Linked DNA regions of Homo sapiens. The protein of the gene in region 2 interacts with the protein of the main gene of each other region in a biochemical or structural test. Each region holds a gene or a part of one and is shown on either strand. Other genes may lie near its edges.

Evidence for each region.
Region 1: the proteins of EPB41L2 (region 2) and NUMA1 form a complex in vitro, tested with the Homo sapiens proteins (one study listed by BioGRID).

The regions. Positions count from the first base shown.
Region 1 is NC_000011.10:72,007,258-72,014,542, forward strand, and holds part of NUMA1 (nuclear mitotic apparatus protein 1), read right to left. Parts: coding exon 5,638-7,285; intron 5,186-5,637; coding exon 5,144-5,185; intron 3,598-5,143; coding exon 3,529-3,597; intron 2,131-3,528; coding exon 2,011-2,130; intron 1,929-2,010; coding exon 1,710-1,928; intron 1,589-1,709; coding exon 1,431-1,588; intron 944-1,430; exon of another isoform or gene 889-943; coding exon of another isoform or gene 835-888; exon of another isoform or gene 179-834; coding exon 1-178. UniProt on the Homo sapiens protein: Microtubule (MT)-binding protein that plays a role in the formation and maintenance of the spindle poles and the alignement and the segregation of chromosomes during mitotic cell division.
Region 2 is NC_000006.12:130,838,750-130,843,433, forward strand, and holds the end of EPB41L2 (band 4.1-like protein 2), read right to left. Parts: intron 1,850-4,684; 3' UTR 598-1,849; downstream 1-597. UniProt on the Homo sapiens protein: Required for dynein-dynactin complex and NUMA1 recruitment at the mitotic cell cortex during anaphase.

The DNA.
Region 1 (7,285 bases), on a different chromosome or scaffold from region 2:
CAGGAAGACGTCTCCCAGGGAGTCCAGGCTGCTCTCCAGGGGGGCCTGACTCCGAGCAGGGATGGGAGTGAAGTAGAGACTCTCCAGGGATTCTACCTTGGGGGGCAGGCGCTGGGAGATAGGTGAGGCTGGTTCTCCAGGGACGCTGGTGCCGTCTGGCTGGGTACGAGGCAGCTTGCTATGGAAAGGAAACCTGCTGAGGTACAGTCCTTCACGCTAGAAGGCATTTTGTCCAGCCCTTTTTGAAAGTGACCATTTCCCATCCTTACTACAAGCAGATGAGGTCAAGCAGCCCATCTCTCTGATTTTTCAGAGGTACCAAGGAAAGCACTTGACCTGGGCCTTCCTTTCAGTCCACTCCCCTGGCTTCTCCTAATAGCTCCTCATAGTGGCAATGCCCAGACCCAGATGTCCCATCCCCACCAGATGCCCATGGCTGCTTCACAGCAAACACGTCCCAATCTAAGCCCACTTCTCTGTTCTTCCTCCTGCATCTCCCATTTCAGTGAATAGGAACGCCCCCCACTCAGGCCCCCAAGCCATGAACGTGGGCATAATCCAATGTCGTCCTGCTTGGCGAGCCCAATCACCAAGCTTCCTGAACAGCTCCTAACCACACCCCACTCCATGCTCATGTCCTTTCCCTGGTCTGCTTCATCTCCTCTCACCTAGACTCATCATGGCACTGACAGAGGAAGATGAGTGGTGACAAGCCAAGAACTCAGGCCAGGCTGCCCAGGGTCAAACCCCAGCTCTACCACTGGGGAACCTTGGGCAAGTGACTGCCCCTCTATGCCCCAGATTCATCTGTTAAAGGAGACAGAATAAACCTACCTCAGAGGGTTGTTGGGGGACAAATCAGGTATAATTGTCATGAGTGCTTTATGTCTAGCACAAAATAAGTAAATGTAAGTGTTTAATAAAAACATTTTTCCAGTCTTAACTTCTATACTAGCTATTAGAATAATCTTTTTAAGATGCAAATTAACCATGTACTCTTCAGTTTCAAATTCTTCCAAGGTTCCTTTTTTTTTCTCCTAAACCTTTCAATTACAGCCACCAAGGTTTCCTCAATGCCTTTAGGATCAAGTCTTAATAGTCGGTCTCCAATGGGCCTTCCTGGCCTCACATCTCAGCTTAGTCAGGCTCTTTCACAGCCTCTGTTCACACTGCTCTTCTCGTCAACCTGGCACACACACCTATGGATGCTTTCAAGACTCAGCAGGAGCGATAGCTTCCACGAAGCCTTTCTTGACCACTTGCTTTTTATTCCAACTGTGCCCTAAATAGATATCTGGTATAATACCCGTTTTTCGTTATTCTTCTCTAAGAATAAATTTAGATCACATCTTATTTATCTCACTAGGATACAGCCTGATAAACAGCAGGCACTCCATAAACAGACATAGGGAGGAAGGCTGCCTCCTGACCTGGTGATACTGAGTGGGGTCCCCTCCTCGCAGCTCAGATCCAGGCTGTCAATACTCAAGTCCAGCTGGGGCTTAGCCTGGGGCTCACGGCTCTTTAAAGCATCAGTTGCCACCTGGAATTTGCCCAGGTCTCGAAGCTGCTGGTCTGCATGGGCAACCTGAGAAGGAGAGGGCCAGGGGGAGAGTGAAGAAAAGCCTAAGGCAGCAGTGGCCTAGGAGGAGAGGGCACAGGGGTCCAGTGGAATAGGAGTGAGGTGAGTCTGCCAGCCAAATTCTTACCTGTGCCTCCAGGCTGCGCACCTGGGCAGTAAGGTGGCGGCAGGTCTGTTCAGCCTCCTTGGTCTTCAGCCCAGCCTGCTGTAGCTCATGGCCCAGCCGTTCAGCTTCAGCTCGCAGCTCTTTGTTTTCCTTCTGCAGCTGCTCCAGGCTCCGCAGCTGCTCCTGCAGCTCTTGGTTCTGCTGCTTCTTGGCATCATAATGTGTTTTGGCTTTCTCCATCTGTGGGCAGAGAGGGTGGGTGGGTGGGGTAGAGGTTGAAGGGCAGGAGGAAGGTGGCATGGGCTGGGGCTGGGCTCCTTACCTGCAGCTTATAGTGCTCAGCTGCCTGCTCCTTCTGGCTCAACTGGGCTTGCAGTTCATTCAGCTGGGCCTGGAGGCGCTGGGCCTCCTGCTGGCTCTCGCCTCCCTGAGCCTGGACAGCCTGAGAAGAAAGGCCACTCAGGAAAGCTGGTCTGGCCGCTCTACCCAAGTCCGCTTATCTGCACCAGCCACTGGGGCTCCACAGGTGCTTCAGACTCCTGCACTTTCTTAGGAAGCGGAAGAAAACCACACCACCCCAAATACTCTCTGCCCGACTACAGTCTACTAAACCTGAAGCCCACATGCCCTTCAGTCCACATCCGTAGTGGCCTTTCCCTGACCAGCTCCTGCCCTATCTTTGCCTTCTTTGAGACCAGACACAAAGTGTCACACCCTCTTTGCATGCACAATCTCCCGTAGGAGGAAGGGAACCAATCCTCAGGGAACACCCAGGTGCAGAGCCTTACTCTAAGGCACTTGGCATGTGAGCTCTCTTAGGACAGGGGAACTTGTTTCTCCTCAAAGCCACTCTGAGAAGTCACTTCACCCTCTTTTCAGAGGAGGAAACTGAGTTCAGAGATTTAAGCAAATTGACCAGAGTAACAGTGACTAAATGGCAGAGTAAGATTTGGTCCACCTAACTCCAAAAGCCCATGGGGGCTTATTTATGATGCCCACACTGCCTCCTGTCCAGACCATAACTCCTTAAGAGCAGGGCCTGATTCTCTGTCCATCTGCAAGGCCAACAAGTGCTTTGCTGTAGATAGAAGCATCCCCCCTTTGCCTCTCCTAACATAGGACAGGCCCCACAAGGAGTAGAATAAACATTTGTTTATTGCAATCAAGACATGCTGTGGCACCATGGTATGAAGGTGAGCAGGAGAAATGAAGCTCTGAGCTCCCAACAACTCCTAGGAGCCACCAGGGCTTTAGTGAGTCCCAATGCCACTGGTGCCCAATTCCTTTGCCCCTGACTGAAGGCTGTGAAGCCTAGAACTGCAAAAAGCAAGTATTAAACCAAAGAAGGTGACACAGTTGAAAGCATTAAGAATGTTATTAAACTGCACTGTAATATTCAACACTGGTGACACTCTCGTTCTTTCCCTGCCCAGACTATCTAGACTTACATTGTCCAAAAGAACTTTATGCAATGGTGGAATGTTCTGTATCTGCGCTGTCCAATACAGCAGCCACTAACCACATGTAGCTACTGAACAGGGGCACAGTGTAGCTAGTGTGATTGAAGAACTGGATTTACTTTAATAAATTTCAATAACCACACGTGACTAGTAGCTGCTGAAGTGGACAGTGACAGTTGAGAGATGGGAACCACCCTGGTTGTCTCTCGAGAGCTCCCAGAAGACACATGCAGGGGCTTCTAAGCCACAGGCTTCCTAGGAGGGCTACCTGGAATGCAGGGTGCCCCTCTTCTGCCCCGACACCCCCCACGGCCCCAGAGCTTAGAGAATAGCTTCCCTCCCTTGTCCAGAGGCCAGACCCATTCCCCCAGCTGCCCCACCTTCAGCTTCTGCTGCTGCACCTTGCTGGCTTGGTCAGAGTCAGCCAGTTTCTTACTCAGTTCTTCCACCTGGGGAGGGAAGAGGAGGACAGAAGACTCAGGAGGACTTCCCCTGGATGTTCATCCTGGATGTCCACCCATCATGGGGTTTCCCAGACCAGGATCCCCAGTGTTCCTAGAATAAACTCAGGCCCTTTCTCTGGCCTCCAATTACGGAACAGCCTGCTGCCCAGGCTGCTTGGCAGGGCCTGAATGAGGCAACCTAACACATAGATGTTGCCAGGGCCAACTGTTCTTGCGTCTACCCTGAGCCTGCAGAGACAGAGGCCTGCCCAACCCCCGTCACCTCCAAAATCAGGAGAATTGACTCTGGGGAGCCGACACCTCACCACCACCTTGCTGCCGCCACACTCTGCAGCCGCAACCTTCCCAGGACCTAGTCTGTAATTCTAGTAGACATACTCAATGAATTCCCATGCCTCCCTCCCAGAAACTGCCAAAGCCCAAGCCCACAGATGCTCAGACCTCTTCCCAACATCCACAGGCCGTTAGGGCTGGTGCTAGCAGCATGGCTGCTGTGGTTAGCATTGGGGAACAGATTGCTGGAAGACAAGAGCAGGGGCAGCACATGTACTCCAAAGCCCACCCCACTCCTACAAAGAGGAAGAGCACAGGGAGTAGGGGAAAAGAGAGAACATAACAGCCCCATGCACCCTTGGCTGCTCCAAGCATTCTGGGAGTTCAAGCATGACCAGGCAGCACAGGGGAGAGGCAAGGGCTCCATTGCTAACTGTTTGCTATTCACTTTGATTGTCCCCCACTATCACAGGCTCCTTAGAGGAGGGCCCAATTTTTCAGCAGCCCTGGGGTGGCTGGGTAGGAGAGTGATGGAGAAAGGGTGCTCTATAGCCTCGATGTCTCAGAAACACCAGCTCTATAGCCTCGATGTCTCAGGCAACACAGAGATGATTCCCATGAGAAAGAGGCAGCCAGACCATGTGACCCCCACTCCCCCGCCCCCATCTGGTATAGACCCCTCCTGCTCCTTCACCCTCGGTCTTCCTGCTACAGACATCTCTATGCTGTGCTCGGGGTTAGAGCCCCAGAAAGTGATGGGCAAGTGTCCTAAGCCCACAATCCTCCCTAACCTGTGGGGGCTGCCTCGCATATCACCTTCAAGGCTTCCATAAAGCTGTACTCTGGGAAAAAGGGACACCATGTTAAACAAGGCCGACACGGTAATTCTGCTGTTCCTCTTAGTCGGGTATCCTTAACTAGACACAGTACTTGGGAAGTTCTCGAATCCCAAGGATTGTGTCTGTCATTGGTTCAGGGTGGGAAAGATGAAGCCAGTGCTACCCCTTGTCCCTGATAGGCAAATGAGAGAAGGTGCAGAAGGGTGGAGAGGCCGACCTGGGATGGGTGGGATGAGGCCTGAGAGAGCCCAGCACACCACACTCCTGGGCAGCCTGGGCCTGGATTCCATGGCTTGACCCTGCCCCCTTCACAAACAGTTCACAACAGGAGCTGGCGGAGGCAAGCTGCAGCCGGGCTCATGCACCAAGACTGGTCACCGTTTAAGCAGCCAGCATTTAGCGAGGACCTCAGGCATTACCTGCTTAGTTTGCTCTCTCTGAAATACCTCTAGCTGCTCCACCTGTACATGGGGGAGGAGCAACAGAGACAGAGTGAGATGAGGCCAAAGAAGCACCAGCCCTGCTGCCAGGCTGACCTCACTGAGGCTCTGATACTTTCCCCTAAGGAGCTAGATTGACAGTAAGTTTAAAAATGCCAGTTAGGCTGATTCTAATCCCCAGTGGCTCCTGAGGCATCCAGTGCAGGTGTGCCTCTGAACAGGCTGGTGGTCATCACAACTTGACTCTCTAGTGACAGAGCCTTCAGGGGAGGGGAGGCCACTGACATTTTCTTTAGGATGACAGGGGCAACAGACTTGAACTCCACCAGCCACCTCTCCTTTTCTGCCACCCAGTGAATGAGGAAAGGCAAGACACTCCAGTGTAGGAGCTAGAGGCCCTGGACACAGAGGATCGATGTCCCCGCGCTCTCAGCTCCTGATCTTTGGGAGGGTGGTTGGGCTGAGTACCTTACCTGGGCAGTGAGTTTCTGCCTCTCTTCCTGGAACCGCTGCCTCTCCTCCAGGACCTTGACCTTGGCACCCTCATACTTGGCAGTCATCACCTCCAGCTCCCGGGCAGTGCTCTGTGCTTCTCGCTGCACCTCAGCCAGACGGGTCTCAGCATCAGCACGTACGGCTGCCAACTCTTGGACATACTTCTCCCGGGCCTGGTCCAACTCCACTTCCAGAAACTGCCGGCCAAGGTTGGCCCGCTCACCCAGCCCCCGGTTCTCCTCTGCCAGCAGGCCATGCGCCTTCTTCAGCATGCTCAGCTGCTCTGCATAGCTGGCCTTCTCTGCCCGCAGCTGCTGAGCTGTTCGCTCCTGCTCTGCCACCTTCTGCCGCAGAGGAATCAGCTCCCCAAGCTCCCGCTGGGCCCGCAGCAGCTCTGCCCGCAGTCCCCCAGCGGCCTGCTTGCTCTGCTCCAGCTCCTCACGGTGGCGTTTCTCGGCAGCGGCCTGCTCGGCCTGCAGCTGCTGGCAGAGGTGCTTAGCTGGCAGCAGCTCACTCACCAGGGCCTGTGTGCTGGTGTGCTCGAGCTGCAGGGTGGAGAGGGCCTGCTCTTTCTGGAAGAACTTCTCCTGCCACGCCTTCAATTCTTGGCCCAGCTCCTCCGCACGCTCAGCCTGTGAGGTCAGCTCCTGCCGCAGGTTCTCTGAAGCCACCCGCTGTTTCTCAGCCTCCTCCCGGAGGCTCTGCACCTCCTCCCGCAGAGCAGAGCTGCGTTCTGCAGCTCTGGCACTGTTGCTGGCTGTCTCTGCCTGCAGCAGGCGCAGCCTCTCCTCCAGCTTCTGGCTCTTCTCTGACTCGGCCATCACCAGCCGCTTCAACTCCTTGCTCTCCCCCTCCTTCTCCAGGACCTGGCGATTCAGGATGGACACCTCCTCCTCCAAGCTGCTGATGAGGCTATTTTTCCTCTCAGCCTCTTGCCGGCCCCGGGCCACCTGGGCCTTCCACTCATCTTCAGCCTTGCTGTGGTCTTGTACCTTGGTGCGGAAGGCAGCCAACTCCCGTTGGGCCGAGGCTAAGGCACTCTGACTGTGCCCTAGCTCCTGGGCCTTCTCCTCTAACTGGCCCTGCAGAGTCTCCAGAGCACTGTCCCGCTCAGCCCGGGAGGCCCGCTCAGCCTCGAGGCTGCGTTCCAGGCTGTCAGCCTGCTCCTGCTGCTTCTGGCATTGCTGTTCCAGCTTGCTCACCTCTGCCCGCAGTGCCTCCAGCTTGGGGCCTGTTGGCTCTGTCCTGCCAGCAGCCTCAGATTGGGCTCCTGAGCCAGATGCGTGCTCCTTTTCTTTCTTAGCCAGCTGTTCCTTCAGTTGCTTCACGGTTTGCCGAAGTTCCTCCAGCTCTTTTATCTGGGCTGCCTCCAGACCACGAAGCTTGGCCAACTCCTGGTCCTTGCCTTCCTTTTCCGTCAGGGCATGAGCCAGTGCCTCTTGCAGGGTAGCGAACTCCACACGCTGCTCGTTGAGGGCGTTCTGCAGCCGCATCTCAAGCTCTGCTCTGGCCGCCTTCTCCAGGGCAAGGTCAGCCTGGGCACGGCCCCGCTCCTGGGTCAGCCGCGCCACCTCCCTTTCCTGCTGCCCACGCTCCTCCTGCTGCTGCCCCTGGCTCTCCATCAGC
Region 2 (4,684 bases):
ACAGATCTCAAAGACGACAGTTATGCAAATTGTATTTAATGTACTTACTTTAAATGACTAGAGAAAAAAATTCTATATAACACTTTACAAGAAATGTACCCTGTTGGTTATTTGCTCTATAATAACACCATAACCTGGTGTGCCCCAACAAAAGTTTCACAAGAAAGCATCCCAATCAGACTGGGATGCAGCCCCTCAGTGGCCTAGTTTGCCTGATATACAGAGGGCCAGTGGACACAAAGTAAAGAAGGACATGAAGCAGAGGAGCAAGATTCAGATGGTACAGCTAAAATATTTCCTGAAAACAAAATGAAAAATGCACAAAGAAAACAAGCAAAAATATCCCTCGGAGAATTCGTAAAAGCTGGAATGGATTATGTAACCAGGCAGAAGGAATCTGGCACTCTCAACATTAGATTTACAAACTTTCAACGTCGCTTTCACCGTTTCAAATAGTGATGTTGGCAGCATCATCAAATTACAGAAGAGCTGAAAACAGATTTTGAAATGCTACTTTTCACAAAATACTAAGACTTCTGATGAAAAATATCACTCAAGTTTGTTTTTTTAACCCTTTAGAAAAAGAGAAGTGACAAGTTTAGAGAATAAACAAACTTTATTTTATAATAGTATTACAGGAAGCAAAATATCATTTAATACAACTTGAGGCTGCTATAAATCTAATCTGGCATCGTAACTATACATAGGGTCAAAGGCAAAGGAAAAAATGTTCAATATAGTTAATAAGTCCCTATCGGGTCTCTGGTGCCAGCTTTAAATGGTATAACTTTCTTGTAACCAACAGAACACCACCACAGCCCCCTCCCCCTCTCCCCAGCATCCTCAAACCTGTGTGAATCATAAAACTATCTGAAAGAGATAGGCCTGCTCAATAACAAAAGGTAAGTTTTACATGTGTAGACAAAGAGGTTTAATACAAAGCAAGAGTTCTACCCAAGTGTTCAAATAATGGAAAGAATTGAAATGTGGGTATGTTAAGAAAGAAAGCACTAAGGTTTTAAGCTGCCTGAATCTTTTAGTAGAAGGGAAGAAAGTTTTCTCTTTCTCTTCCCTCCTGTTCTGGAATGCTGCCGAAGGGCATGTGTCTGACAAGCATTGGCACTGTGGTGCGGCAGGGTCTCTAAGCACAGTGCACAGTCAGTGAACTTCTTCATTATTCTCCAGTCCAGAGATTCTGACTCTCTACTAAAAGTAGAAAGTCACAGGACTGGAAAGTCAAAAGGGTCCAATATAAAAAACATCCCTGTGAAATTCTCAAATATTAGAAAATTTTCAAGATGTAAGAAAGGCTTTTAATCTGTATTAATATTTTCTCATACAGTATATTTGCTGCAATTTGAAAACTCCGTAAATATTTACTGTGAGAATTCAATGAAAAGAATCCAGAAGAAGGAAAGCCACTATCTAAATTAGTCACAGAGTTTCCTTTCTGCGCAACAGCACCTGTTCAAGTGAACAGCACCTTACCAGCTTGGGCTGGCTTTGTTCACTGTCATTTGATCAAAGTGAGTCATTAAAAGCAGGTAGTTGCACACAAAGTAAACAGAAAACAAAACCAAAACCCCTTAATTAACAACAACAAAAAGAAAGAACTGAGAATATTTAGAAGTGGTTATAAAACAAAATAATATATTAAATGCATGGGAGCAATATAGACCAGAGCTGGTAAGGAAAGGTTTGGTGTTGGCATTTTAATTCTTCAGGCTTCTGGTCATTGTTACCAGTTGTAGCATAAATTCGCTGGAATAGTGGTGTGGCATTAAGACTTGGAACGGTCAAAAAATCTTCAGGGGTTCACAAAGTTGAGTGTTGTTTAAAAAATGACTTTCTAGAAGAGAAAAAAAAAAAAAAAACAGAAGGCTTAAATATTCCAAAAACACAGGCTTGAAAAAAATGTTAAGTAACATTCATCAAGTTTTCAATCAAGTAATCAACAGTTACTGTCTGCCTAGTCTTACATTAAATAGTATGTTTACCAGAAGACAAGCATGAGACACTATTCCACTCTCGAGGGCCTTAAAATACCTGGAGAATTGACAAGTACGCTAGAAGCAACTGGCAAATAAGAGTTCACTGCAAAAGAATTTATTAGCATAAAACAGAGACAATTCATATGTAAGAATTTAAAGACAGAAACCAAGGTAGGTTTTAAAGCTATACTCAGGGAAAGGGAAAGTCAAAGTCTATTTTCTTTGTGCTAAAACGAATGGAAATGGTGCTTCAGGTGGAAAAACACAATGAGGAAAGAGGCATGGAGGTGAAGAAGTACACAGTATTATGACAGTAAGATGTATGTTGGGGGAGGAGGCAGAAACGAATGGAAGGAATAGGACGGTGAAGAAAGGGACATTACTAAAGTTGAGCATTGGTATAGTGAGTAGTAAATAAAGGTACAAAATATTAGGTCTATTCTTTAATAGACTGAGAAGTACCAGCTTGATCTAATTGACCAAAAAAAAAAAAAAATGAATTAAGAAAAAACATTTGGACGAAAAGACCAGTTGGCAATCTACTACAATGGTCCAGGGCAGAGTGCAAGAGCCACAGAGAGATAGAAGACTGGTCAAAGAACTTGGGGTTGGCCAGTCATGCAGGGCATGATAAGCCCAGGAAAGGAGGTTGGGATCGTTTCTTCTTTGGTTTTGAGGAAGGGTTTGTCATGGTGTGATTTACGTTTTGAAAACACTGCTGTGGCTTCAGTGTGATGAATAAGCTGAAGCCGGCAAGGAGTAGAGGCAGGAACAACAGTCAGGAGACCAGTGCAGGAGTCCAGCTGGATGAGGAAGATGACAAATGTCAGGCATTCCTGCCAGATGGCCAGGACCCAGACTTGAGTGGTCACCACAGAAATCAGGTGGGAGAGAAATTTGAGAGGCACCACTAAGGAGAATAATCAGAGTGTGGTGGTTAAGAAGTAAGTATAAGACAGGATGATAAGGTTTGGAGTCTGGGACCTCAAAAAAAGGAGAGAATGAAGGCTTACAGCCTGGGTGAAGCATTAGACCTAGGGATATAGATTTGGGCATCAGAACAAGGGATAAGTGAAACCAACAGATAGAACTAAGTCTCATGTGAGCATAGGAATAAATGAAAGCCACAGAGTCTTGCAGAAGTCCACAATCAAAGGTAAGTGGAGAAGACTTTTTAAAAAACCCATGATGGTGCAATGGCCCTGAAAGAGAAAAGGGTTTTAAGGTGGCAATTGTTTCATTTTATATTTGAACTTGGTTGGAAGTTTTGGCAAATGATAGGTAATCACAAAGGACAGTGCAGAGTGGTAATTAACGTCTTTTCCAAGAGACACTGCTCCCAAAGTCAATTAGAATGTACACTCTTTTGGTTAGGTAAAATTAAGTCTTGCTTTAATGAAAAAAGTTCCTACCATTTAGATTTATCACAGATAATATTAAAGCCTCTTGATTATTCAGGACAGATTGATTAATCAACTTCATTGTTTTCTACCCTGTTGTCTGCCTTAGGTTATTTCATTACTCATTAGTACTTCTGTTTGATTCTAGGCTGGGGGAAAAAAAAATCAATGGAGAAAATAGAAAGTCTTTTTTTAGGTTAGTAATTATGAAAAGAAATGTGGGGGATGATGAAGGGAAATGGATACAATTACCAATCAAATTGGATTTGGCAGTTATATGACACCTTCAGTCATGGAACCTGTTCTTGTTCCTTCAGAGCTGGTATTTCCATTTGCTTTGTTTAGTAAATATGCATCATTTGTTGAACACAGCTGCCATTTTGCCTAGTTTATGTTATTAAAAAAACAAACCCCTGATGCTATCAGGGCCTGAAAACCTACAGAGAGAACAATGTTTAGGATTCTAGTCTCCATTTTCTCTAGGCCCTATGTCACTTTATTGCTTTGCATCTGTTTTCATCAAAAATAAAAATTTCACTTTGTAATGAGTCATAAATTTGTAAAGAAAAGCTAAAATTAAACTTGTTTCAAAGTTATTACAGGAAACTAAGCATATGTTGGAATTGAAGGGATCTTGATCTCAAAAAACTTCAACATTTACTGAGCTAAATATAGAGAAAAAGACATAGTTACCCAAATAAACTCAAAATGTAATTTATTTCCATTAATAAACTTTTTTTCTGGTAATGAATATTATAAATGATAACCTTCATGTGCTCTTAGGATTCCAAACAGCTTTCAGAATCATTTTATTGCCATTTTAATGTTAAAACTTATTTATTTTCTCATTCTTTAAAAATCAGTAAATCAAGTTTAACTCTGAGTTATTAGATATTGTGTCAAAACATCCCAGTTCCTTATTGGCGTGGATGAACAAGAAGTAACTTATTGTACGAAGACTTTATTTACATATCCACTTATCTTTTTTGACTGTTTCTTGCACTTAAACACATGTAGAAATACGTTCCTAAGTACTAAACAGTTAGCTTTTGAGCTAGAAAAGAGAAAAGATAAAGACAGAATCACCAATGTCACTGCTACATAAGCATCAGAAATACTGTACTTTTCTGTCCTCTGGCAGGTGTCTGTGAGAAATAAACTTAATATCTGACAATTTTTTACAGGCTAGAATTTGGGACTAAATGATTTATTACATATTCCAACCAAACTGAAAACTAGGCAATGGCTCTTCATGTAAAAGCTGTAAAAGTTTCAAGAACATTCTTTTCTTTC